Regions from separate parts of the Homo sapiens genome. Here region 2 is linked to region 1. A link means that fine-mapping ties the variant in region 1 to the expression of a gene that starts in the linked region. Tissue or cell type: blood mononuclear cells. Region 1 holds a variant in brackets; the other region holds the start of a gene. All regions are shown on one strand. Distances are from middle to middle. Region 1 overlaps CYTIP (cytohesin 1 interacting protein). Region 2 holds the start of CYTIP (cytohesin 1 interacting protein).

Region 1 (2,500 bases):
GTATGTATACATTCAAAAATGTCTGTACTTTGGTGATCAAGACACACATACTATTTCCAAGTTTGATCTATTCAGCGCAAACTGGGATTTTAAATGCTATCTGTATCTTAAGATATAAAATTATTACAAGGTAGAAAGTCATAAATAAAAGTTCACTTCCAAAAATATATTACTAATCTGTTTGTCATGGTTGTGTTCTTCAGCCACATGATAAAGTAATTCCCAATCTACTTGATTCAAATTTGGTTTATCAAATGCCCTTCTAGAAAAATGCATTTTCATAACAGGTTGTCAATTAATGGAATTCACCAGTAATACATATTTGAGAACTTTCAAGTTAAAAAAACACTTTTCAATTTTTTCCCTAGTAAATTATATCAGAATGAATCACTATGCACCAGAAGTTTCTTCTAAAGCCTGACTGAAGTCATAAATTAGTCTGAAAGTTATACTGTGAGAAATTTACCCACATTTCTACTAAACAAAAGCTAATTTTCTTACAGCTTGTGAAATATAGAACATGACATACCCTTCCTTCCTGTACTTTGGTTAACCAGTACTTTTTTCTTTATTCTCAGAACATACCTCGACTCTAATTCTTACCGCAAACTAAAGTGATGCTTGCTCCGTCCCTTCCCTGCCCCTTTTTTGCATTTGAGGTCTACTGTCATACAGCAGTGTTACACTTCTGTATTAAAATCACAAGAAAAGCAAATGATCTATGGTCTGCTTTCCCGTATGACCTATGTCATTCTGTGTAGTTCTCAAAGCATTTTTTCACCTTGTAGAAGATTTCAAAGTCATCTTTCCTCAAATAAATGTGGTGTTTCCTTCCCCTGGACTTTGTGAAATAGGATAACAAGAAATGCTGAATTCATATAAGTAGACCTTTAACAGGATGATTCTAGACTATGATGAGAAATAAGCAATACCAGTTGAATCATAACTGGTTTGCAAGCTCTTGTTGAAAATAAATGCACTGCTAATCATGTAGTTATTAAAGAACCTATGTCTGAAACTTGTATATGAGGAACAGAGAAATGTTTGTTTTCCTATTTACCCAAAGAAATGCTCTTATCTGTGCAGCATCTATAATTGTACATTTTAAGTATTCCTGTTGGGTGGAATAAAAAGTACTGTGATGATCACTAAACAGAACCAAAAGAGTAAAAGATATCTGGAATAGACTAGAGCAAGGAAGAACTGGCTTCCAATTTTAGCCCTGCCACTGACTAGCCTTGTGACCCTGAGAACATTTCCAAATTCCTGACTTGTTATCTGTATGCCTAACACCTACTATATAGTAATTGTGAGGATCATACGTAAAGTGTCTTTAGCCAACTAGGTACTCAGTAAATGGTAGACAGTATTGCTATCATTTCTGTGAAAGGTGTGACACCCTGCCTTTCATATGAGTGACTGTCATGCACAGGCCACTGGATGTTTCTCAGTTCAAAGAGTTAATAGAAGGCAAGTCCCAACTAGAAATCTTTTCATACTTTATCATTTCTTTCTC[A/G]TCTTAGATGCTTCCTTACCCTACCCTCTTTTATCTCAAAATAACTCATTTCTTAAGCAGAAGTTTAATTAAATTTAGCAGCTCTACTTAAATTGAAGTGTTTCTATTTCTCCCAAACACACACACACACGCACAGAGAGAGAGAGAGAGAGAGAGAGAGAGAGAGAGAACTTAAAATCAGCAGACTATTTATTACATAGTCCAGATTGTCTACTCTAGAATATAGGTTATGAATAGCTGTGCCACCAGAACAGAGAATTCATAGACTTCAATGGATATTAAATAAAACATGGAGTAATTGAAAGGCTAGAAGTAATGTGATACTAACATAACCAATAGGCAAAAGACTGCTGAGGTGATAGCTATTTAGAATATAAGATATAAAGTGAGAAGTAATATGAAAAAAACTACAGGAGGGAAGTCCTTTTCCCAACCCTCAGTTTTGGATGTTAGACATTTGTAGAAAAAAAATTACAAAGCTGTAGGATTCGGAGAGTTCTAGACTTGCCATTAATGTTCAGGCAGAACAAAAGCTGAATTGGGCAAAAAACACGACATCCCCACCCATTTTGTTTAGACTGTCTATAAAAATGACTTTATTATGATCTTTGCAGCACCCATCTCAGACCACATCTTTCCATGGTTCTCATGAACCTTAACCCCTCCTATTAAATCTTATACTTCCCGCTTTATTGTCACTATAGATGTGAGAAACAGCTGATGGTCATCTTTGTTTACAAGCCATTACAGGTTTGAACAAATTCAAAATTGCCTATTATTAAGCCTCCGCAGGAGCTACTGGGCATAAGCAAACCTAAGATTTTATAACCCAGCAATTATCCTATAGAAAATAGTCCAGATTATTATATTCTGCCACACCTTTATTCATACTTGACTCCAAAAAGTTCTCAATTATTCACAGGGATAATCTAGAAAATAAATATTAGTTTTGCTTTCAAAGACATTACTGGAATGAGCAGGAAC
Region 2 (3,042 bases), 30 kb after region 1:
CTTAAGCGCAAAAATTCTTGCTCTAGGGCAATTCTAAATATTTTCTGTAGAAATGCTACATCGAAATTCAAATATGTACCTGGGGATTTAGAGCAAGTTGTTTAAAAAAAATCCTGAAGAGGTATTATGGTTAAAAAAAAATTTTTACATGTTAGAAATTGAAGAACGAAAAAATCAAAATAAATTCAGTTAGACATAGATTTTTCCAAATGAGTTTTCATCCCTAGAGACAAACTTTGCAATAAAAATATTAAAATGGCATAATCTAGCATTTAATAAACACACACTGAATGCCAGTCACTGTGTTAGGCACTGCACAGTTCCTTATTTAACCAACATAAGAACCCAATAAGGGTGGTTCTATTATTAACTCCATTTTAGAAAAAACAAAACTGAAGCTTAGAGAGGCAAGTGGCTTGCTCAAGATCCCACAGACACTAAGTGGTGAGCTGATATTCAATCTGGCACTCATCTATCCAAAAAAAAAAAATCTTACTTTCCAATAGCCTGAGGTATGTGCCAGCAACCCAGAGCTGAAGATAATTAGTCAACAAAATTTGTCCTCAGAAAAAGTATTTCTTATTTGATTATGAACTGAAATGACCATCAAGGACTGCAAGTAAGGATGGAAGGGAAAGAATCAGTGGAGACACAATGGGGAAAAGAGAATTAATTCTCATACTGGTTGTATCTATATAAACCATCTTCAAGTTTTTTATGCTTAATGATGTTTATTTTACCTGAGCACTTCTTCAAATAAGAAAAACAATCTTAATTTTTGCCTTGAAAAAAAAGTTTGATTGTGGTCTCAAATCTTTGGACTGGTTCACCTAGCTCCCTGAGCATCTCACCTCCTTCACCCATAATAATCAGCCAGTAATTCCAAAGCCTCTAAAATATCACCATTAGTATGAAGTCAGACAAACATATCACTCTGCCCTCAAGAGAATGTGAACACTCTAAAGGGTACAAAATAGCAATCATACCTGCTTTCGTCCCCGAGGCAGAGTAGCCACCGTGTCTGCTAGCATTTGAATCCTTCTATTATCGTCCATCGTAAGGCTGCCGGTGAGTGTGGAGTAAGAGCTATACGCTGGCCCAGCGCAGAAGTCCGCCAAATTGCCATTGCTGCTGTGTTGCAGGAGCCTTTGTAAAGACATTGTGAATAAAGATCACTCCAGCTAGCACATGGTTGAGTGGCCTTGCAGGATGGGGGAAGCTAAAAGTACAACTGTGACAAGTAATCAAAAGTAGCAAAGCAGAAAGAGCCCATGTGACCTCTGTGGTTTGAGGAACTTGTTACACAAACCCTATCTTGCTATTCACTCCCATTTCTCAAAGCTTTTTTTCTTTAAGCTCCTGAGAGAACCTGGAGCTAATTTTTACAATTTAAAGAAAAATCAACTTATTTTTTCACCTCAAACAGCCAGAATTCTTACGCTTTTATGTTCTGTGGCAAGTTGCATTCACACCACCATTTGCCATTTTTTTCTTTAGAGAAGAAAGAAAAATGTCCCCAAGTGCTACCATTTGTTTCCCATCCATTCTCTTACTTAACATTAGCAATGCAATGCAGAAGTCAGCACACGAGGACATTCAGTTCTTGTGAATATGGGCAAGAATTACAGGTGCCGGTCATAATGTTCTCTCTCGAAGTCCTTGTAATACTGTACTTTCCCTGAAGTATACCCTAGATCATTAATGTTCATCAAAAAGACATTATATCTGCCACTGAGGTTGTAACCATTCAGCATTCTTCTGGTTGTCCTTTTACTACTTTGTCCTTACAAAAATTACCCATGATCTTTACAAAGTACAATGGGAAGGGAAAGCCAGCACATTTAGGGCACAATGTTGCCATTTCTTAGACGAGACTTTGCGGCAGCATCAGCAAGTGGTCCCAGGGGAGGAAAGGAGTGGGCAGGAAGGTAACAGGCAAACCAAGGTGGCACCAAGAACATTGCCTGTTGGTCCCTGCATGTGCATATGGGTCAAGGGCACCATCACCAAGTACTCAAGATCACAGATGCTTTTTTTTTTTTTCCTTTGGCTGAGGTTGGGGGCAGGTAGTTTTGAGAGAACTGGTTTCAGTGGAGGAGTAGGGGAGGCAAGTAAAAGGAAGAATCGAAACAAAAGTCAAAAAGAGAAGTTTTATATGGCACAAAAAGTCAAATGTGCTTTTTAAAATCTCTGAAGATCAATACTAGCATTTGAAAGAGTTAGCAAATCTTTGAACTAAAATGAAATGTGTGTGTACTGGAAGTGAAGATGAATTCAACTCAAGTAGAAATTGCCAAATATAAATAGTAAAATCTGAATTAATAGTGCTTCAAAAGTTGAAGCCAATTATAGATTTTAAAAACTCTATCACAGCATGACTCATTATACTGGAATTGAATTTTGACATGGACAAAGTGATATCACCACAAACATATAACGGTCTAAATCAGGAATTAAAAACACATACGTTTTCAGAAGCCAGGTAAGTAACATAAATGTGTAAGGCAAAAGGGAGTGGTAAATACCTTGGCAACTAAAGAATACATCAATTATAAAGATATTCACGTAAAATCTATATTTATAGATATGTACAGATATGTATACAGGTATATGTGGGGTGTGTGTGTGTGTGTGTGTGTGTGTGTGTGTGTATTAGGAAGACAGAGAGAGAGATTGATTTTAAAAACATTTTCAGGCTAAGAGGCACATAAATTAAATCATCACTATTAATGGATGACAGCAGTCCACTGTACCCTAGGAATCTGATAAAGTTAGGTAAATATTTTTAATTTTTATTCTTAATATTTTAAAATGCCAAATGGAAATTATACATTTGCTTAATATAAGGCCACCCACTCAGGCCAACTGACTCACCCATTTTTATAAATGACTACTAAAATTGTACCAATTCATTGTAATACTGACCTTAAGCTGATGTAAATCATAGATCATCATTCAATTAAGAAACTGGAAAATACTTATTACTTAACTCATGAAATGTGTTAAGTAAAATTTTTCAAATAATGGGATACCTGGATACAA

Evidence for each region.
Region 2: it holds the start of CYTIP, and the variant in region 1 is fine-mapped to the expression of CYTIP in blood mononuclear cells (TOPMed, PIP above 0.99).

What each region holds. Positions count from the first base shown.
Region 1 is chr2:157,412,932-157,415,431 of GRCh38, forward strand. It overlaps CYTIP (cytohesin 1 interacting protein), which reads right to left. Exons shown (of 8, transcript NM_004288.5): 8 at 1,688-2,500. Among named protein-coding and RNA genes, the nearest start is that of CYTIP, 30 kb to the right of the region's middle. RefSeq lists an enhancer at 771-820. The variant A/G (reference allele first, on the strand shown) is at 1,517.
Region 2 is chr2:157,442,861-157,445,902 of GRCh38, forward strand. It overlaps CYTIP (cytohesin 1 interacting protein), which reads right to left and starts at 1,229. Exons shown (of 8, transcript NM_004288.5): 1 at 987-1,229. The coding sequence starts at 1,160. RefSeq lists enhancers at 890-989, 1,030-1,079.